Linked DNA regions of Homo sapiens: regions 1, 3, 4 and 5 are each linked to region 2. Evidence: fine-mapped expression QTL. A gene starts in region 2. Each other region holds a variant in brackets. All regions are shown on one strand. Distances are from middle to middle.

Evidence for each region. PIP is the estimated chance that this variant, and not a neighbour inherited with it, causes the effect. A credible set is the group of variants that fine-mapping cannot tell apart.
Region 1: its variant is the best candidate, but not a certain one, in a credible set for the expression of SLC25A29 in whole blood (INTERVAL, PIP 0.56).
Region 3: its variant is the best candidate, but not a certain one, in a credible set for the expression of SLC25A29 in ileum (GTEx, PIP 0.74).
Region 4: its variant is the best candidate, but not a certain one, in a credible set for the expression of SLC25A29 in whole blood (TOPMed, PIP 0.71).
Region 5: its variant is the best candidate, but not a certain one, in a credible set for the expression of SLC25A29 in monocytes (Fairfax 2014, PIP 0.50).

What each region holds. Positions count from the first base shown.
Region 1 is chr14:100,339,738-100,344,150 of GRCh38, reverse strand. It overlaps WARS1 (tryptophanyl-tRNA synthetase 1), which reads left to right. Exons shown (of 11, transcript NM_004184.4): 8 at 764-876; 9 at 1,580-1,753. Among named protein-coding and RNA genes, the nearest start is that of SLC25A47, 19 kb to the right of the region's middle. The variant A/T (reference allele first, on the strand shown) is at 1,978.
Region 2 is chr14:100,304,392-100,308,804 of GRCh38, reverse strand. SLC25A29 (solute carrier family 25 member 29) reads left to right here and starts at 2,361. Exons shown (of 4, transcript NM_001039355.3): 1 at 2,361-2,606. The coding sequence starts at 2,573. It overlaps MIR345 (microRNA 345), which reads right to left and starts at 946; the gene lies at 849-946. RefSeq lists enhancers at 1,381-1,550, 1,581-1,650, 2,859-3,425, 3,678-3,737, 3,788-3,867 and silencers at 1,741-1,810, 1,901-2,370, 2,431-2,530.
Region 3 is chr14:100,197,282-100,201,694 of GRCh38, reverse strand. No RefSeq gene overlaps it. Among named protein-coding and RNA genes, the nearest start is that of YY1-DT, 39 kb to the left of the region's middle. The variant T/G (reference allele first, on the strand shown) is at 2,460.
Region 4 is chr14:100,347,739-100,352,151 of GRCh38, reverse strand. All of the region lies in intron 6 of WARS1 (tryptophanyl-tRNA synthetase 1), which reads left to right. Among named protein-coding and RNA genes, the nearest start is that of WARS1, 25 kb to the left of the region's middle. The variant T/C (reference allele first, on the strand shown) is at 1,716.
Region 5 is chr14:100,363,475-100,367,887 of GRCh38, reverse strand. The region is part of intron 2 of WARS1 (tryptophanyl-tRNA synthetase 1); the gene reads left to right. It also overlaps the pseudogene NDUFB3P4. Among named protein-coding and RNA genes, the nearest start is that of WARS1, 9.7 kb to the left of the region's middle. The variant AG/G (reference allele first, on the strand shown) is at 2,159.

The DNA of each region.
Region 1 (4,413 bases), 35 kb before region 2:
GTACAGTCCAGCTTTGGCTCCGCATCAGAGGGAGACCGTGGAAAGAGAGGGAGAGGGAGACCGTGGGGAGAGGGAAGAGGGAAGAGGGAAGCCATCATAACTTCTGATAATTAAAGGTGGAAGGTGGCTAGAGAATGGTTAAATGATATGATACATTGACAGGATAGAATATACTTAGTAACAACATGGATAGTCATTACAATGAAAAAGGCAAGGAAGGCCGGGCGCCGTGGCTCACGCCTGTAATCCCAGCACTTTGGGAGGCCGAGGTGGGCAGATCACGAGGTCAAGAGATTGAGACCATGCTGGCCAACATGATGAAACCTCATCTCTACTAAAAATACAAAAATCAGCTGGGTGTGGTACGCACCTGTAGTCCCAGCTACTCGGGAGCCTGAGGCAGGAGAATCACTTGAACCCCAGGAGGCAGAGGTAGCGGTGAGCTGAGATCGAGCCACCACACTCCAGCCTGGCAACAAAGCGAGACTCCTTCTGAGAAAAAAAAAAGGAAAAGAAAAAGCCAAGGAAAGACCAAATATAGTGTAATCACAACAAAAATGCATAGAGTAAAATATATAAAGAAAATGGATGAAATCAGACACATTGCAACTGTACAGCTTGTTCTTTCTACTTTTCTGTATTTTTTAGATTTATTTTAATGATTGTTTTATAATGGGAGAAAACCTGTTTTTGTTCATTCCTTTATTAACTAAGCAGAACAGGAACTCATCTCACGTGTAAAAATACTTTTTCTCATTTTCAGGGAAGATCAGTTTTCCTGCCATCCAGGCTGCTCCCTCCTTCAGCAACTCATTCCCACAGATCTTCCGAGACAGGACGGATATCCAGTGCCTTATCCCATGTGCCATTGACCAGGTCAGCAGGCAGAAAAGCAAGGCTCTCTAAGTCTGGGGCATTGACAGCAGGTTCCTCTTACTCTTCAGCGGGGAGAGGTATTGAAAGATATGATGGGCAGCCAGGCAGGGTGGCTCACGCCTGTAATACCAGCACTCTGGGAGGCCAAGGCAGGCGGATCACTTGAGGCCAGGAGTTCAAGACCAGCCTGGCCAACATGGCGAAACCCCGTCTCTACTAAAAATACAAAATTTAGCCACATGTGGTGGCAGGCGCCTGTAATCCCAGCTACTCGCCTCGCTTGAACCCCAGAGGCAGAGGTTGCAGCGAGAGCGCATCACTGCACTCTAGCCTGGGCGACAGAGCAAGGCTCTGTCTCAAAAAAAAGGAAAGAAAGTTGGGGAGTGGGGCAAGGGGAGGGAGAGCATTAGGACAAATACCTAATGCATGCGGGGCTTAAAACCTAGATGACGGGTTGATGGGTGCAGCAAACCACCATGGCACATGTATACCTATGTAACAAACCTGCGTGTTCTGTACATGTATCCCAGAACTGGAAGTAAAATTTAAAAAAAAAAAAGGAAAAGATGAAGGGGAGGAGGGAGTGAATTTCTTTGGTTGGAAGCATGAGAGCCTTCTGGGAAGATGCTCACAGGGACTGCTCATGGCTGAAAGCTGGCATGTTTTCTGGCCGCCCTCATCAGGGTCCTTACTCTCCCCACAGGATCCTTACTTTAGAATGACAAGGGACGTCGCCCCCAGGATCGGCTATCCTAAACCAGCCCTGCTGCACTCCACCTTCTTCCCAGCCCTGCAGGGCGCCCAGACCAAAATGAGTGCCAGCGACCCCAACTCCTCCATCTTCCTCACCGACACGGCCAAGCAGATCAAAACCAAGGTGAGCAGTGGCCCAGGCAGAGGGCAGCCAGCGGGATCAGAAACATGCCCTGGGGGGCACACGCACACACACACCACTGCGCAGTGCTTTGGGCCTCAGCCACCCAGCCACCGTAGCAATGCTGAACTCCAGGATTGCCAACTTTGCTCCCTGCAGAACTCAAGGCAGCCTGTCCTTCCCACATGAATCAGGTGAATTTGTTTTGTGTCCTTTCATTTAGGTAA[A/T]ATTTTGAATTTTTTTTCTTTTTTTCCTTTTCTGCTTTTCTTATCAGCACTGTTCTGCAGGCAAAGTCATGGCAATTTCCTTAAAGTTATAATTAGTGTGGATGTTATTAAATAATGGAAAAGATTTGTGTATATTTCTCATCATCAGCTGTGTTCCAGCGGCTGGACCCGGTGCCTTATTTATGTTTTCTCATGTTTCATTCTCACTGGGAGGTGGTGGTGCTATTCCCTTTAAAGATGAGATGATGAGGCTTAGAGAAGCCCAGCCACTTGACCAAGTTTCCACCACCAGGAATCAGCAGCACTGCTCTCCTGGCCCTGAGCAGCCATTACCAAGCAGGGGTTATGAGCTGGTCTTCTCCCAGAGAGCGTTCTCACTGAGAGACATAGAACGGAGAAACGTCCATCCACGGGACAGTCCTGCTGGCCCCAGGAGGGATGCATGCAGCAGGCATTCAGCAAACATTTGACAAATCACTAGAGAAACTAAAAGGAGAAGTTAGTTTGAGCTTCCTTATTTTGCATGGCCCCAGTTCTGTTGCCTGGTTCCTCAACAGCCAGTGTATATATAATTGCCTCACTGTTACACAAAGCAGTTGACATTTTCTTTGGAATCAAGTGTGTGTTTGCAGGCTAGAAGATTGCAGTGGGAATGCTGGGAACTGTATTTGAGGCATGTCACATGCCCTCTGAGTCACTGCCCCTGACCGTTCTGGAAAGTCCCAAGCAGGTTCTGGTTGACAATGGGGAAGCCTTTCATATCAAAACTTCCTAAGACATGCCCTCCACCAACTCTCCCCACTCAGTTGGAAGCTGGTATAATTGAAGACTTTTCTTTCCCTTTCACTTCTGGCCAAAACTTCCGGAGCACAGGGTGCAGAGTGGGGAGGGAAGCGCCATTGGAAAAGTCCACTGTTTTATTTTGCTTCTGAGAAGTTGTTTGGAAAAAGTTGTTTATGGCCAGGTGCGATAGCTCACACCTATAATTCCAGCACTTTGAGAGGCCGAGGCAGGTGGATCACCTGAGGTCAGGAGTTCGAGACCAGCGTGGCCAACATGGTGAAACTCCTGTCTCTACTAAAAATACAAAAATTAACCAGGCTTGGTGGCAGGCACCTATAATCCCAGCTACTCGGGAGGCTGAGGCAGGAGAATTGTTTGACCCTGGAAGACAGGGGTTGCAGTGAGCCGAGATCGCACCACTGTTCTCCAGCCTGGGCAACAGAGTGAGACTCCAGCTCAAAAAAAAAAAAAAAGAAAAGAAAAAAGAAAAACTTGTTTATGGATCTGGGACATTTATCATTCACTTAGGGACCAGTAGAGCCCTCGAGGTGAGCAGTTAGCATGAGGTCAGGAAAAACAGAGGCCTACAGACGGTCACTGGGCCTGCAGGCTTCTTGTGGGGCAGAACAGGGCCCGCCCAGGCCCTCACTCTAAATCCCCGTGCCCGACTTCAGCTCCAAAATCAGAATCTCCACACTAGAAAAGAGAGGGCACATCTGCTCCAGCCTCCTAAAAATAACAGGTTCAGGCAGGGCAGTGGCACGTGCCTGTAGTCCCAGCTACTCAGGAGGATGGCTTGAGCCCAGGGATTCAAGGCTGCAGTGAGCTACTATTGTGCCTGTGAATAGCCACTGCACCCCAGCTGGGGTGGCACAGTGAGGCCCCATCTCTCAAATTAAAAAAATCAAAATAGTAGCACAGTGCTGACGACTCAGGTGGCTTTGCTGAGTGAGTACCTGCCACCTGCACACAGTAAGCCTGTGTTATCTAACTTTATTCCAACTACCACCCTAGCTGGCTGTGTCCATTCGGCATCATTTCCTGTCACACAGAGTCACACTGGTCACCCACTTCCATCATCTTAGTTGCTGGCAGCAGTGCTCCATACCCACCCCCAAGTCAGCCCTCCATCTGTTTTCCTGTAAGTCAGGCCTGGTAGGCTGGTTCCTGCATCACTGAGGACTGATCACGTCAAGGAGGCAGAACTGAGCCCCTCAGTTCTCGAGCTCCACCCAGAAGCCTGGTGTCCCAGGAGCCAGCCTGGTCCTGCCAATCCCTGTCACATATGGCAGGTTCCTGACACTCTGGGCCTGATTTCCTTCACCTGTAAGATAGAGACATCACTACAGAGGTCATTGGGTTGTTGGGGATAAAATGCATGTCATAACCCTAACAGCCTCCACGGATGGCACATCTGCTGTGTGCCTACCGTGGGAAAAGCCTGGGGAGGGGGAGTGTGCAGGTGGTGGTGACGCCAGCACATCTTGAAAAACATGCAGCAGACACCAGTTTCCTTGTTCTCCTCTCAGATAAAGTTCTGGGAACTGGCCTTTCAATATCCTCTTCAAACTGCCCCTGGAAGCCAGGACCTGTGTTCTCAGACTTTCTTCCTGACACTGAAGCTTCTTCCCCAAGGCCCAGCAGGGAGGGCTA
Region 2 (4,413 bases):
AACAAAGGACCCTCCCTGCAAGGAGGTTTTTCTTTTTGAAATAGGGTCTTGCTCTGTCATCCAGGCTGGTGCACAATGGTTCGATCATAGCTCACTGCAGCCTTGACCTCCTGGGCTCAAGCGACCCTCCTGCCTCGGCCTCCTGAGTAGCTAGGACTACAGGCCTGCAGGCATGCGCCACCACATCCTGCCGATTTTTTTTTTTTTTAGAGATGGGGCCTCACTATGTTGCCCAGGCTGGCCTCAAACTCCTGGCTTCAAGCGATCCTCCTGCCTCAGCCTCCCAAAGTGCCTGGATTACAGGCATGAGCCACTGAACCCAGCCTCAAGGAGGTTTCTGAAGCTCAACTATGGAATACCTACTGTTTACCAGGCTACTAGGCCCCTTCCCAAGGACCCCAGGGACTGACAGCTCAGTGCAACCTGCCCCAAGCATAATTTTCAAGGCATGTGCATTCTCTCAATAACAAAGCAAAACAGGTCATGCTTGTCTCCTTATCCGTTTCCATCATTTTCTCACTACTGCCACATGCTGTCAAGGTACTGGATTTCCCTCCCAAACCTCCTCAACCAGGAATGGATGTGCAGGGATTTGTGCTTTACCTCATGAGCCCTCCAGCATCCCAAGGACATCCTGTTCCTAAGGTAAGTGACTACATGTAGGTAGTCCAGTGTAATCACTGTGTCTGCAGGAGGCCTCCAGCCACCTGAGTAGCCCCACAGCCAGCTCCTGCCCTTTTGGGTCTGGGCTTCTCTTGGGGCCCCCATACCACTGCTTTTCTGGCCCATGGGCCACTCTCCCCCATCCGCACACCTGCCTCCCTGAGGCAACCAAGTGGGTCAGAGAGGCTGTCGATATTCAAACCCAGGCCTCCAGACCCCTCGTTCAGGGCCCACCAGCCATCACGAGCCCTGGACTAGGAGTCAGCAGACCTAGGGTTTGGGTCTCTGCTTAACATTCTACTTAGACTCTAAAAGGAAACTAACATGAGCACTGGGGACCCCTGCCCCTAGCACCAGGCTGCACTACTGACAACACCTACCTGTGTGTCCTAGTACCAAATACACAGAACCTTTCGACCTGCACCTCCAGGAGGTAGGTACCCACTGGAATTTGGATAAAAGAACCATGTGACCCTAAACCTGGAAACGTGGCACACGGTGTGGCCTTGCCTGCCTGCAGGCCCTAAAGAAGGAAGCTGGGCCCGGCCTAAGGCTGATCTGACTCCTACAGCGAAGAGAAAGCGCCTGGCCCGTCCCTGCTCCCAGGCTCCAACCTGACAGTCTGGACCTCCAGAGGCGCTGGGGAAGGGCTGGTGGGAAGTCACCGAATGGGACGCTCCACAGGGACCAGGGCAGTCCCTTGCCACTGCGAATGTCAGGGACTCCTGGGGGGCCGAGTCAGACTCGGCTCTCATTCATCCCCGCAGCCCATGGATACCCTGGTGACCCAGAGCCAAGCACCCTCCGACTTCAGCGCCTGAGCGCGGCCCCTACCGAGCCCCTCCGGTCTCGCCCCGTCCGGCCGCCGCTGACGGAGGCGCTGCGATCTGGCCCGACTCCACTCTGCAGCCCAGTCCAGGAACCTCCCTCTCTCCACAACCTTCCGCGGCTCCCGCGACCCGCAGTCCTCGGGAAGGAGCTGTGGCCCGAAGGCCTGCTGCGCCCTTTGCCCATGGCCCCTTTCCCTTTTAAGGTTCCCTGCTCTCCGCCCAAATCCCAGCCTCAGGCTCCGCAGGAAGCGCCCGTGCGCGTCCGACCCCCAGAACCCGGCGGGTTCGGCCAGGAGTCCGGAAGCCCCGGAGGCCACCGCCGCCGCGGGCGCGCAGGCGGGACGGGCAGAGGCTCCCCACGGGCGATTCCCGCTCGCGGAGTTTCGCAACTAGCGGCGTCCCAGTCTGCGGGCCTCGGAACGTCCCGGCGCTCCACGGCCGTTTTCGCGGCAGGGTCCGCACGGCACAGACTAGGGCGCTGAGGTTCTGCGGCGGCGCCGGACTCCGAACCCAGGGTCCGGTTCCCGACCCGGTCCAGACCAGAGCCACCCCGCGTACTCCGGGTGGGGGAGTCCTCGGCTCAACCCCGCCACCCCGCGCGTCCCCTCCCGCCGGACCTGCGCACCCAGCGCGCTCTTTGTCTGAGGCGTCCCCGCGCCCCGCCCGCGCGCCCACCACGTCCCCCGCGCCCCGCCTCCCGCGCACGCCCGGCCAATGAGGCGCGGCGGCGAAGCGCAGTGCCCGGGGTGTTGTCCGCGCCGTGCCCGCCCATTGGCCTCACTCGGCGCCCCCACCCGGGCCCTGCCGGCAGGCACGAGGGGCGGGGCGCGCGGCCCGAGGTGAGGGACCGCGGGCCGGAGGGGATCCAGCGAGTCAGCTGCCGCCGAGGGACCAGCGCGGGTCTAGCTGCTGCCGCCATCCCCACCATCCCTGACCGCGCCTGCCCGGGCTCCGCGCCAGGAGGAGCGGCCAGGCCCAGCCCCGGCACCGCGCGCTCGGGGACCCCGACGGCGCCCAGCCCGGCGAGGGGCCTCAGGGGGAGGACGAGGAGGAAAGGCGGCCTCGCCGGGGACCCGGCCATGGCGCTGGACTTCTTGGCTGGATGCGCGGGGGGTAAGGAGGCGGCGGGCCGGGCCGGGCCGGGGCGAGGCGTCCGGGGAGGGAGGTCGGCCCACCAGCACGCCCTGGCCTCGCGGCTTCCCGCTGGCGGGGGTCGCCGCGTCTGTGAATGGGGACCACAGTTCTCTTGCCTCGGGCGGGTCTCGTGGGCGTAAATTGACTTCAGGCCCGGGCTGTCCGCGAGGGCAGGTGTCTTTATTCTCTCTGGGCACGCTCGGACGGGAGGTCTGGGGCGCCGGGGCAGCACCGTGGCTGAGCGGAGGCCAGGACTGCCGGGAGGATGCCCCACTGCCCCCCGCGCCGAGGTCCCGGGCTCATCTCCTTCCCCTCCCCCATCCCCATCCGTTGCGCACTGGGAGCAGGGTCCCCTCCCCCGGCCGTATATTTCGGGACTGACTCCACCCCGTCCCGCGCAGCCATCCAGCGGGGTTGGGGCTACGGAGCCGACCCCCTACTCGGCTGGCCTTGGAGGGCACTGAACCACTCTGGCGCCGAGTCACGCCTTGGAACGCCGCCCCTTCCTACGCGGTTTTGTGAGCTGTTGGGGGCGGAAGGGGGGTGGTGGGTGGGTCGGGCGAGCCGGTGTGGGGCACCTTCTCCGAGGCGCGGTCGCGGCTCTGGGGTTCCTCCCATGCAGTTGTCCCCGGGAGGGCCCGGGCGGGCGTGCAGTCCAGGCTCTCCCATGCCCCGACCGTGGGCGTCGGGCACGGCACTTCCCTGTTGGGCCTCTGGCTTCTCTGCTTTTACCTTGAGGGTTAATTTATTCACCAGGATTTAGATGTCGGGGGCGGGGGAGGGTGGTTGGCGGCGGGAGTTGCTGAGAGGGCCGGCCGCTTATCCCTGTTTGGTCCCACTTTTCTCCCAGCACCTGCCCTTGTTCACCGCCTCTTCATCTACTTGGATTTGGCTCGAATAAACCCTCAGCTCCCGGCCAGCGCTGAGAGCCCTGGCGGAAGAGTGGGTAGCGGTGGCCTTAAGTATTAAATCTGTGGCGTCGGAGCCTGCTTCTTGGGGGAGAGACTCGTTGAAAAGGGAGTGTGTTGGGGAGGTGTTGTGCGCTGAGGGGAGTTAGAACTTCCCGGTCGGTTACCCAGTGGGAAGCTGCGGGGCACAAAGCCCAGAATTTGCTGCTAATCGCTGGGTGCCCTGGAGACAGAGGGGGCGTGTCCTCTGCGGATTCCATTCTCACCTTCCCCTCCCGCTTCTGATCTCGCTGTTTGCTCCACCCTTGCTCCCCACCCACTATCAGCTCCAGCGGGTGGGGGTGAAGGGCTGTCCCCAGGCCAACACCTCCTTCCAGGCTTTGGGGAGTGGGGATTCTTTCCCCGGATGGGCAGAGTTCCTTCTGCAGTGGCGCTACCGTCCGTGCTGCCCTCCTGGAAACACCGGGGTTTGGGGCAGGAACACTTCACCTGAAAGCAGGCCTGCTTGGCGCCTCCCGGCACATCTGTGGTCTCCTCTGCACGTCGCTCGCGCAGCCTCCTTGCCTGGAATGTCCTTCGCTGCCCATCCTCATAGGCCCACCTGGGAGAGATCATATCCATGCCCCCTGCCCCAGGTTTGTGGGTCAAGGACTGGCACTGTCTGGTGCTGTAGCACTGGGGCACAGGCCACCCCCCTGCCCCCAGGCCCTGCTTTTCGTGCAACCCCCAGGCACATAATGGCCACCCAGCTAAGGCTCTACAAGCGTAAGCCTGAGCCTCCCAGGTGGACAAGGACAGAAGTCACCTGGGGGCTCACTCCTGGTCTCATCGGAGAAACCTAGGCCCAGAGAGGTGGGGGTACTAAAGCAAAGTCACAC
Region 3 (4,413 bases), 110 kb after region 2:
GTTTTCACTATGTTGCCCAGACTAACAATATATGTTTTTAAAAAGTTATCTTTGCATTCTGAGTAGGAATTAGTAAAAATAATAATAATAATTAATTAATTAATTAAAAAAGTAAAGACTTGAACTTCCTATCTCCCTCTCCTCTCCCTGTGAAGAAAAAAATAATAAGTTTTTTTTGGTAAAACTTACCTTTTTTTTTTTTGAGACAGAGTCTCACTCTTTCCCCCAGGCTTGAGTGCAATGGTGCAATCTCCGCTCACTGCAACCTCCACCTCCCGGGTAGAGGGAATTCTCTTGCCTCAGCCTCCCAGACAGCTGGAATTATGGGTGCACACCACCACGCCTGGCTGTTTTTGTTTTGTTTGTGTATATATATATATTTTTTTGTATATAACTTTTGAGATAGAGTCTTGCTCTGTTGCCCAGGCTGGAGTGCAGTGGTGCAGTCTCCGCTCACTGTAACATCTGTCTCCCGGGTTTAAGCGAGTCTCCTGCCACAGCCTCCCGAGTAGCTGGGATTACAGGTGTGGGTCACCACACCCGGCTAATTTTTGTATTTTTAGTAGAGATGGGGTTTCACCATGTTGGCCAGGCTGGTCTTGAACTCCTGGCCTCAAGTGATCCTCCCACCTCGGCCTCCTAAAGTGCTGGGATTATAGGCGTGAGCCACTGCACCTGGCCAGTAAAATTTATCTTTAAGAACAAGTTAAAAACAATGTGTAACTACAATGGAATATTATTTGACTAAAAAGAGAAGTGTGGATACATGCTGCAATATAAATCAAACTTGAAAACATTATGCTGGCTGGGCGCGCGGTGGCTCACGCCTGTCATCTCAGCACTTTGGGAGGCCAAGGCGGGTGGATCACGAGGTCAAGAGATGGAGACCATCCTGGCCAACATGGTGAAACCCCATCTCTACTAAAAATACAAAAAATTAGCCGGGCATGGTGGCAGGCGCCTGTAGTCCCAGCTACTCGGGAGGCTGAGGTAGGAGAATCACTTGAACCCGGGAGGCGGAGGTTGCAGTGAGCTGAGATTGTGCCACTGCACTCCAGCCTGGCGATGAAGGGAGACCATCTCAAAAGAAAGAAAGAAAGAAAACATTATGCTAAGTAAAAAGCCAGACACAAAAGGCTGTGTTATCCCATTTATGCAAAATGCTCAGAATCAACAAATCCATAGAGGCAGAAAGCAGATTAGTGCTTCCCAGGGGATGGGGAGTGGGGTTAGATAACAGGATGTGACTGCTAATAGGTACCAGGTTTCTTGTTGGGGAGTTTAAAATGTTCTAAAATGAGAAAATGGTCATGGCTGCACAACTCTGAATATACTAAATCCTTGAGTTGCACATTTTAAAAGGGTGACTTTTAGGCTATGAGAATTATATCTCAATACATGTGTTATTCAAAAGTGTATAGAGGCCAGGCGAGGTGGCTCACGCCTGTAATCCCCACACTTTGGGAGGCCGAGGCGGGTGGATCACTTGAGGTCAGGAGTTCAAGATCAGCCTGGCCAACATGGTGAAACCCTGTCTCTACTAAAAAAATACAAAAATTAGGCTGAGCGTGGTGGCTCATGCCTGTAATCTCAGCACTTTGGGAAGCTGAGGCAGGTGTCTCTACTAGAAATACAAAAATTAGCCGGTCGTGGTGGCATGCGCCTGTAGTCCCAGCTATTCAAGGAGGCTGAGGCAGAAGAATTGCTTGAACCCAGGAGGCGGAGGTTGCAGTGAGCCGAGATAGCACCACTGCACTCCAGCCTGGGCAACAGAGCAAGGCTCCATCTCAAAAAAAAAAAAAAAGTGTGTAGGGCTGTTTGCCTGAGAATGGGAAACCCACGCAGGGCCCAGTGAAGCACACTTCAATGACACAGGTGCAGCAGAGGGACACCTCCCAGCATCAGTGTCCTCAATGGGTAGCCCCCGGGGCCAGCAGCATCACTGGGGACCTGCTGGGAATGCAAGCCCTCAGGCCCCACCCCAGAGCTGCTGAGTCAGAGACTCTGGGAGGGGGCCCAGCCATCCCTTTGTCAGGCCCTCCTGGGGATGCCCACTCTCCTCCAAGGATCACCGCCCTAGACCCAACCTGGGCAGCAGAGGGAAGCCAACAGCATGAAAAGGGAAACTCTCCACCATGCCACAAAACCCAGGCCTCTACGCCCAGCTGAAAAGCCATCTCCTGCAAGAATTTCTCTGAAATTCTTCATCGCTTCATCACTGTGGCTTCAGTGTGGTTCCAGATCCGAGTCCATATAGCACATGTGCAGGCAAGTCTCATCAGGGCTTGGGATCTCTAACCCAGCTCTTTATACACTTGGGCCTGTGACTCCCTACAGTCGAGGGCCCTGATGGACAGAGCGTGACAGCAATGAAGACTCCAGTGTTCAGAATGATTCTGAAGTACAGTGAAGAGGAGAGGAAACAAGAGGACAGAGGACAGTTCCTTGGTTCTATTCTC[T/G]CTCTCTCTTTTTTTTTTTTTTTTTTTTTTGAAACAGTCTCAGTCACTCTGTTGCCCAGGCTGGAACACAGTGACATGATCATGGCTCACTGCAGCCTCGACCTCCCTGACTCAAGTGATCCTGCCACCTCAGCCTCCTTAGTAGCTGGGACTACAGGTTGTGCCACGACACTCAGCTAATTTTTTATTTTTTGTAGAGACAGGGTCTCACTTTGTTGCCCAGGCTGGTCTCGGACTCCTGAGCTCAAGAAATCCTCCTTCCCAGCCTCTCGAAATGCTGGGAGTGACTACAGACATGAGCAACTGTGCCAGGGCATTTTTATGTTTAATTGAGAAAATACCACTTCCAATACCACTCTTTAATTCTGGACAGTTTTTGTAAACCCCAAAGAGAAATTCGGACTGTTAGTAGTCACTCCTATGCCCCCTTCCATCCAAACCCTGGCAACCACCATCTACTTTATGTTTCTTTCTTTTTTTTTTTTTTTTTTTTGAGACAGAGTTTCACTCTTGTTGCCCAGGCTTGAGTGCAGTGGCACAATCTCGGCTCCCTGCAACCTCTGCCTCCAGGGTTCAAGCGATCCTCCTGCCTCAGCCTCCCAAGTAGCTGGGATTACAGGCATGTGCCACCACGCCCAGCTAATTTTTGTATTTTTAGTAGAGACGGGGTTTCACCATGTTGGCCACGCTGGTCTCCAACTCCTGACCTCAGGTGATCTGCCCACCTCAGCCTCCCAAAGTGCTGGGATTACAGCTGTGAGCCACCACGCCCGGCCTTCTTTCTGTTTCTATGGATATGCCTCATCTGGACATTTCATATATGTGGAATCCTACAATAGGTGGCCTTTTGTAACTGGCTTCTTCAATTTACCATAATAAATTTGTTTTGTTTTTCTAAAAATGTATGTACAAAATCTCCACACCTCTCTTGTCAGTTTCCATATGCTCCTGCAATGTGGTTCCTGCGTAGAGCTGGGCAGTGAGATTATAGGTTTGTGTGTATTTTCCACAAATATGTGCTATATTTGTAATTTTTTCTCTTTTTTCTTTTTTTTTTTTGTGAGACACAGTCTTGCTGTGTTGCCAGACTGGAGTGCAGTGGCACGATCTCGGCTCACTGCAACCTCCACCTCCTGGGTTCAAGCATGTAATCAGTTTTTTAAAGTTTACTTTAAGAAACCCCAAAAACCTTGATTCTCCTGTTGCTGCTGTAACCAGTAAAAAGAAAAAAACAAACTGGCTGGGCACGGTGGCTCACGCCTGTAATCCCAGCACTTTGGGAGGCCAAGGCGGGCAGATCTCTTGAGGCCAGAAGTTTGAGACCAGCCTGGTCAACATGGTGAAACCCCATCTCTACTAAAAATTCAAAAATTAGCTGGGTGTGGTGGCACACACCTGTAATCCCAGCTACCCTGGGGGCTGAGGCAGAAGAATCACTTGAACCTCGGAGGTGGAGTCTTCAGTGAGCTGAGATCACGCCACTGCACTCCACCCTGGGTAACAGAGCGAGACTCCATCTCAAAAACAAACAAGAAAACAAACAAAAAAAGCCTCGATTCTTGTGTATATTATGTTATAATTTACATACAAAGAGGTAGGAGAATACAAACAGATACATTTTTACTTAATAGAGAAAGAAACAGTTTCTAATCCCAGCATTTTGGGAGCCCAAAAGTTTGAGATTGGCCTGGGAAACGTAGTGAGATTCCATCTCTACAAAACACTTTTTAAAAAGAGAAAGAAATAGCAGAAGGGAAAACCGGGATATAAATGAAGTGGCTGCCCAGCGGCCTGTGACTTATGACTGCTGTCTTGGAAGTGGGTCCTGGGGGGTCCATCAGCCTCTTTTTTTTTTTGAGACAGGGTCTCGCTCTGTCGTCCAGGCTGGAGTGCAGTGGTGCAATCATAGCTCACTGCAGCCTTGAATTCCTGGGGCTCAACCAATCCTCCCACC
Region 4 (4,413 bases), 43 kb before region 2:
CAACAGAGTGAGACTCTGTCTCAAAAAAAAAAAAAAAAAAAAAGAAAGAAACTGAGTAGTGGTTTTATATCCATTGAGAGCAATGTATACCCTGATAGGAAATCTCGCCCTTCTATCAGCCAGTAAAACTGTTAGCTTTTTCTTTTTCTTTTTTTTTTTGAGACGGAGTCTCGCTCTGTCACCCAGGCTGGAGTGCAGTGGCACAATCTCGGCTCACTGCAAGCTCCGCCTCTCAGGTTCACACCATTCTCTTGCCTCAGCCTCCCAAGTAGCTGGGACTACAGGTGCCCGCCACCATGTCCGGCTAATTTTTTGTATTTTTAGTAGAGACGGGGTTTCACTGTGTTAGCCAGGATGGTCTCGATCTTCTGACCTCATGATCTGCCTGCCTCGGCCTCCCAAAGCACTGGGATTACAGGCATGAGCCACCACGCCCAGCACCTATTAGATCTTTTAAAATTACTTCTCTTGGTTCAGCCATGTGAGCATGGAGGCCCTGTGGCATCCTTGAAGGAAGGAAAATAGACAGGGATCCAGATCCTGGCACCTGGGTTTAGTGGCTGTGTGTCATAGCAGCCGTGTCCATGAAATGGGATCAAACAAGAACATAGATGTCATCATTAGCATAATTTTCTTTTTTTTTTTTTTTTTTGAGACAGAGTCTCACTCATGGGTTTTGCCATGTTGGCCAGGCTGGTCTTGAACTCCTGACCTCAAGTGATCCTCCCCGCCTCAGCCTCCCAAAGTGCTGCGATTACAGGTGTGAGCCACCATGCCCAGCCGTGTTAGTATAATTTTCATGGCACTTTATTTCCTTATTCTCACCCCATTCCATACAATGATTCAACTGATTGAACCTCTGCAGAGACAACTGTGGGTTCTGCTTCTCCTTTTCCAGTCAGGCAGTGCTGCTGGCATTGCCCAGTAGCTGCTATCCTCTTCCCACACCACCACTGCCCCCACCAGCCAGTGATCTCCCTAAAACTCAGAGCTAATCTCATCTTCCACTTGCGGGTCTTTCCCAGCTCTCCTCCTTAGATGACATTGAGAATTCTCACCTTTCACTTGGCACACGAGCCCTTTCGTGATTGGCCCTGTGTTCCTCTCCAGCGTCACTGCTACCTCCAGCTCAGTGGAACAGCTTGCAGTTCCACATCCTTCTCCTTTGTACATGCTCTGTGCTGCCCAGAATTCCCACCCACTCTCCTGACCCTGCCACCCCCAGCTTAGCTAATTCCTACACTTTCTTCCAAAGGCATGATCAAGCATCACCTTTTCCTAGGAGCTTTCCCTCCCCACAGCCAAATTTAGATGCCCCTCTCTGGTCCTCCATCAGGCTGGGCCTTACCTCTGCCACATCTGGTACAGTGTGGCCCTCTCCCCACTAGCTGAGTAAGACACATAGTTCCTGAATTTGTGCTCTCTGTGGCCCATCCCCTCCTGGGCCCCACAGACACAGCAGAAGCAAAGCTGAGCCGCTTCGTTGATGGATATAAATGCTGGTGGTGAGACAAGAGCAAGTGCCTATAATAGTCCATGAAGCTGATTCAGCCAATAGATGCACGATGGGGTAGATGAACTTTTGAACAGTCCATGTGAAAAGACCACCACCTGAGCAACCCCACTTTCAGCGCTCTCTGAACGTGGAGTGAGGCCGCCATTCCTCGTGCTGTCTCTTTGGCAACTGCGGTTGCAGCTCCTGACCAGCCTCCACC[T/C]TCGCTAAATAAGAACTTCCTTTTTTTTTTTTTTTTTCTTTTTTTGAGATGGAGTCTTGCTCTGTCGCCCAAACTGGAGAGCAGTGGCATGATCTCGGCTTACTGCAATATCTGCCTCCTGGGTTCAAGCAATTCTCATGCCTCAGCCTCCTGAGTAGCTGGGATTACAGGCGCCCGCCACCACACCCAGCTAATTTTTGTATTTTTAGTAGAAACGGAGTTTCACCATGTTGGCCAGGCTGGTCTCGAACGACCTCAAGTGATCCACCCGCCTCGACCACCCAAAGTGCTGGGATGCGTGAGCCACTGCACCTGGTCGGGAACTTCCTTTTTTCTTACAAACATGGGGTAAAGATGAAACCCAGACAGTATGTCAACCAAAAGGGTCGATGATATCTTTTCTTGAAAGGCATTTTATATTGAACCTAAAGTGAGGAGAGACATTTTAAAGGGTAAATCCTCTATTCAAACATTTTACTTTAAGAGTTTCTTCTAAACATTTGAGCATTTTACTTTTCTTTCTTGAATTTAACTCAAAATCTATATCTTTGGCTTAATAAAGCTCCTTCCTGGTGTTTAGGAGCTGGAAATTCAACAAAGCCAGCCATCGCCCTCTTTGAGTGGGAGGGAGGTGGTGAGGCCTCCATGAGGGAGGAGGCCAGTGCAGTTCCCCCTGCACATTGCACATGGCCCCAGAACGGCCTTCCTGCCCAGGGCCCTGAGGGATGCAAAGGCACTGAGCTGGGAGTCTGAAAACTTGTGTTCCAGACCCAGCTCTGCCCCTGCCTGGTCTTGTTCCCTTGGGCAAGTCCTTAAATCTCTGAGCTTCCATGTTCCTGTGAGGAAGGGAGCTGGGTGCTAGTGGGGGGCAGCATAGCAGAGGTTGCAAGTGCTCTGCTTGACGGCCGTCCGCTGTGTGGCCTGGGCATGGGAGGAGCCTTCCACTGTGTGGCCCGGGCATGGGAGGAGCTCCTCTCTGCCTGCTTTCTTCACTCTGCTCCTTTGTTCTACAAATATTTATTGGACATCTGCTATATGCCAGACTCATGGTGGGGGTACAGCAGGGAGCAAAACCATTATCTCAGCAGCTGTGTAAAGCCTCTCTTCTAATGGGGAGAATCAGCTAACAGGTGATCAATCAGGTGATAATAAGTTCTATGGTGATAATAGGGACAAAGGGCAGGGGTAGAGAAGACTGTGGTCAGGAGATGATAGTGCCTGCACTGCATATAAAGTGCTTCAAGCCACGCCTGGCACCTGGGGAGTGCTCAGTAAATGTTGTAATCTAAAATCTCTTCCCACTTTAAACCCTGTCTGAGAGTGAAAAGCAGGTGCCCTCCCTGGGGTAACTGGTGGTTCAGCCACATGTGATATACAGTTAGGTGTGTTCACTGCAGCCAGTGAGAAGCCTCCATGTGCCGGCACTGGCATGGCTGCTTTGCGTGATGGGTCCGTCCCAGCTGTGCAGGGGGACAGCCGTCCCTTGAGGGGAGGATCACACGTGCTCACGGTGCAGCACCTGCATTCACCCTGCAGCCAGCACAGTGGCAGCAGCTTGCAGCAAGTAATGACCAGTCTTCTAAGAAAGGGCAGCGTGCTCTAACTCAGAAATACCAGTCAGACGCCGTGAAGCTACAGTCCTGCCACAGTTTGGGGGTACTGGAGACTTTCCCTCCTTGTAGGGGTTAGGGTGTCCCAGGTGCCTCAATCCCAAGGGCGCATGGAGTCTTTGCTGCAGCCCATCTCCCCAGGTGACAGACAGCTGCTGTCCTTACTGGCTGTGAGTCCTGCTGCGGTGCCCAGGAGGGACCCTCCCTGCCTGCGGTGTTCTTGGCTTGCTTGGCAGGAGGACAAAGGCCGCATCTTTCCAGGCAGTGCTGCTGTTGGCTGTGCTCTTGCTCTCTGTTGTTTCCATTGTGCTGAGTGGGTGACACAGATGCTGGGTTCTCCTGGCATGCCCCTTCACAGTACTGCGCCCGCCCTCTCCAGTGCCCCCCAGGGCCTGAAACTCAGCCGGCTGCTAGGCGAAAGACACAGTCCATCCCTCACGTGCTGCCTCTGCTCAACCTGGACAGGCCTTGGCACTGACCTTGACCGTTACAGGCCTCCCAGCATTGTGCTTCGCCCAGCACAAACGGCCAGTGTTCCTGCACTCCTGACACCCCACCCCACCTGCACAAAGACATTCAGTAGTTCTCCACCCTGCCCCAAAAGTCTAAACTCTTCTAAAGGATAAGATGTGGTGAGAAAAGCATAGGCTTTGGGGCCAGGTGAATCTGTGTTGGGATCCCAGCCCCTGTACTCACTGGGCCTGTGACTATGACCCTGAACTTCTTTGAGCCTAGTCTAACTGTAAGGTGGAGGCAATGCTACTACTTTGAAGGGGATTTTAGGAGTATTGACACATACGCAGCATCTAGCACAGCTCCTGCCACATGGTGCAAACACTTAAAAGACACCAGCCTTCCCCCTTTTCCCTCGTAGTGTCTAACACATGGTAGGGCCTAGAGAAAAAGCTACTGAATATAGTAATACAAAGATGCAATATAAGAAGCCACTTGGCTGGGCGCGGTGGCTCACACCTGTAATCCCAGCACTTTGGGAGGCCAAGGCAGGTGGATCACCTGAGGTCAGGAGTTTGAGACCAGCCTGGACAACATGGTGAAACCCCATCTCTACTAAAAATACAAAAATTAGC
Region 5 (4,413 bases), 59 kb before region 2:
AGGGGGATCTTGCCCATCTGAAAGCGTATTTATTTTACCTAAAACATGATTGATAGCCAGGCTGGGTGTAGGGTTCTAGCATGGAAGTGATTTCCCCTGGAAATGCTGAAGCCACTGCTCTATTGGCACCTAGCTTCTGGGCTTGCTGCAGAGAAGTCAGTTGCCATTCCTTTGTTTTTTCTTTTTGGAAGTTAGCAGGATCTTCTTTGTTCCCGTGTTCTGAAATTTCATGGGATGCAGGTTCAGTATGCCTTTCTTTTTTTTTTTTTTTTTTTTTTTGCCACCCCACCCCCGCCCCCCGAGATGGAATCTCACTCTTTCACCCAGGCTGGAGTGTGGTGGCACAATCTCGACTCACCGCAACCTCCGCCTCCTGGGTTCAAGCAGTTCTCCTGTCTTAGCCTCCCAAGTAGCTGGGATTACAGGCATCCGCCACCATACCAGGCTAATTTTTGTATTTTTAGTAGAGACGGGGTTTCACTATATTAGCCAGGCTGATCTCAAACTCCTGACCTCATGATCTGCCCACCTCGGCCTCCGAAAGTGCTGGGATTACAGGCGTGAGCCACCACACTCAGCCTGCCTTTTAGACTAGAAACTCATGGCCGTTAATTCTCAGAAATCATGATTTCTTTGATCTCTTCTGTTTTCTCTCTTCACAGACTTTTTTTTTTAATTCAGAGACTGTTTCTCTGATTTTCTAACCCTCCTATTGTTTTCCATTTCTGCTATCATTTTTAACTTCCAGGAGCATGTATGCTCCCTGAAGTTTCCTCACAGCACTCTGCCCTGACTCATAGGTACAGTACCACCCTTTTCTCTCTGAGATTTTTTTTTTTAATCTTATTTTACTGTATTAAATCTTACTAATATTCTGTAAGGGACAAACCAGACGAGTAGGCTACAGTGAAGAAATCTTATTTTGGAGAGTTAAGAAACCACTATGATACTTCCAGGTATTATCTTCAGTGATGCTTCTTATCTTTATTCAGGGACTCCAGGTAATATTCAGCTCCTACAGCTACCACAAATGCAGCAAATCCCCATTTGAATCCTTTAAACAATACATCAAAAAAGGAAACACTCTTTGCAAAGCCACCCATGTATCTTCAAGCTTCATTGTGGCCCCACGGATCCCTTAGCCCTTTTTCAGCCAGCTTCTTCTGGATAGTTTCTAATGGTGTCCCTTCTGTCTTCCGTTGTCTGTAATCTAGAAGTTCCATTTTACGATGTCCATGCTCATGTCCATGTCCATGGGCCATGTCTGACAGCAATCTGACCTCTCAGGACACTCAACTCTCTCTCTCTGAGATCTTAATGGTAGTTTTCCATATGTCCTCTACATCCTTTATAACCTCAGTTTCTTCCATCTTAATTTGTTTTCTACCTGCCTTTCATATTAGAGGCAATTCTCAACTGTTTGGTGTTTCTTGGCTATTTGCTGGTGTTTTGGGGGGTGCACTGAAAGCTGCTGGATGCACTCTTCATTGGGGAAGAGCTTATCAACATAGGTTCCACTTCCTGGAGAGTGACCAGGCTGCTCCCCTTTTGTTGGGGAATCTTTCGTGTCAAGGTCTTTAGATCTTTTCTTTAAAGTTAAGTGAGATTCCCCAGAGAAAGCTCCCCCAGTCCACTGTTCAGAGGGGGTGAGTCCCGCTGCCAGAGTTCTACGGCTGAGTGGGAGAGAAGGGCTGGGCTGTGGGATCCTTCCCCGAAGCTCCCTATTCTCTGTGTGCTGCCAGTGCCCCAACTGTGCAGACTGCCCCCAGTCTAGGCACCTGTAACTCTGTCCTCTCTTGACATGAAACCTTGGAATGGAGGGGAAACTGTGACACTCCCTTGGCCGAGGGGAGAGGGATTCTCAATAACTGCTTCTTGAAGAGACTTCAACCAGCGCTCCTGTTTTCATAACCCGCTTTCCTGCCCCCACTCCTGTAAGTGCGCAAGGTCACTAAGGCCCGAACCTTTGGGTGATTCCGTAACAGTGTACACTCGGTCACCTTCCAGTATTTCCATGATGTCTTAGCATTTGTTTTTCTCTCATGCTGTTAGGCACTGATCATTCATCAGCTTTCTGGCTTCTGAAACCTTGTTGCTGTCATCCTCTTCTTGTTTCCTTTGTCCTTGTGGGATTATGCTTTAAAAAAAAAAAAAAAAA[AG/G]AAGATCTCTGCTTTTGTTGTAGTAGATTTCAGAAATATCATCATCAATACGCATCTTTAACTAGAACATAAGCATTTCATTTCCTTCTGGGGTGACTCCACTCCGGCTTCTCCATGACTTCCATCACTTTTTTTTTTTTTTTTTTTTTGAGGCTGAGTCTCACTCTGTCGCCCAGGCTGGAGTGCACTGGCACAGTCTTGGCTCACTACAACCTCTGCCTCCTGAGTTCGAGCGATTCTCCTGCCCTGGCCTCGTAAGTAGCTGGGACTGCAGGCGCCCGCCACCACACCCGGCTAATTTTTGTATTTTTAGTAGAGAGGGGGTCTTGCCATGTTGGCCAGGCTAATCTTGAACTCCTGATCTCAGGTGATCCGCCCGCCTCAGCCTCCCAAAGTACTGGGATGACAGGTGTGAGCCACCACGCCCGGCCCGACTTCCGACACTTTTAACTCCTGTTATCTGTTATCTTTTCAAACACCTTGCTTGTCACCAGATTGTGTCAACCATCTCACATTCCCCAGTAGTTTACTTTGACTATTTGGGACCCTGATTTAAATCATTATTTGTGTGTGTGTGTGTGTGTGTGTGTGTGTGTGTGTGTGTATTTTTTGAGACAGGGTCTCGCTCTTTCCACGTTGGAGTGCAGTGGTGCAATCCTAGCTCAGTGCACCCTCAAACTCCTGGGCTCCCACCTTAGCCTGCCAAGTTGCTGGAATTATAGATGCAAGCCACTGCACCCAGCTCATATTTTAAATGAAATAAATAGTACTGAAAGAAAGTAATGTCAAAAAAAAGTTACTTTTTTACAGAAAGAGATTTACTCACCAGGTAGGCCTCAAACGATTAAACCAAGTTGTTTTAAAACAAAATTATAAAATAAATAAAAGACCCAGTGGGGTTATGTAAGCCCATCATTTTGGGAAGTTGACAGTGGTATTTTTGTCCATTTAATATTAAATTTGAATAACATTTAGTAAATGTTTTTAGTTAGTAATTCTTAGTGACTGCAGTTATGTTCATTATTTTAGTCAACTTAATACATTTTATAATAACTCTTCCAAGTGTATTATTTGACTAATGCAATTGGCTGGCACACGTTGAAGACATCAGAGGTTGCACAATGAGACCAGAGTTAAGTGGTGAAAAATTCAGAAGTACATTTGTATCTGACCCTGAAATGTCTTGGTAGTAGAAGCACTTGATGTTTTGGAAATTTTAAAAATTAACTTTTAGCAAAATAGTGTGAGCCACATTGGGAGTGCCAGTTCTAAGAGAGGGCACCTTGAGCTCTTTCTTCTCCTGCCATTTATCTAGGCCATGGACCTTGAAGGTCTTTTCTGCTCCAGTGTATCTAAAGAATAAGATCCACATCCTTCAGTAGCAGCAGCTCATTAAAGCGGCAAGTTTCCTAGGGGGAAATAAGTCAGCATCTGAGGGCTGTGAGGGGAAATAGTTTGAGCAGGACTAAAGAAGCAATGCTAGGTCTTAGGTATTAAGAAAGAGAGCAGAGCCTTTTTCTTCTTCTCCTTTTTGTTTAAGTAACTTCTAAAATCAAAATATACCATTCATATAGAAAAACATGCTGATCATAAGCACAAGCAGGCACCTCACTGAATTTTCACAAAATGACCACACCTGTGTAACCAGCACCCAAATCAACAGCAAGCAGAGAGCACCTAGAAGCCACCCTCACGCGCCTCAGCCTCTGCCATGACTCCTCCCACCAGGGGTAGCTCTACCTGGGTTTGAACTGTATGTAATACAGTCTTGTGTCTGGCTTTTTTTTCTGAACATCAGCTTTTGGCGAGGCTCCGTGGCTCATGCCTATAATCCCAGCACTTAGGAGGCCAAGGCAGGAGGATCGCTTCAGGCCAAGAGTTTGGGACCAGCCTGGATAATATAGTGAGACCCTGTCTCTACAAAAAATTTAAAAATTAGCCAGACATGGTGGCACACACCTGCAGTCCCAGCTACTCAGGAGACTGAAGTGAGACCCTGTCTAAAAAAAACTGATGTTCTGGGTTTTTTGTGGGGTGGGGATCTCACTTCATCACCCAGGTTGGAGTGCAGTGGTGCAATCTCGGCTCACTGCAACCTCTGCCTCCCTGGCTCAAGCAATCCTCTGACTTCAGCCTCCCGATGAGCTAGGAACACAGGTGTGTGCCACCACACCTGGCTAATTTTTTCTATTTTTGGTAGAGACAGGGTTTTGCCATGTTGCCTAGGGTGGTCTCGAACTTATGAGCTCAGGCG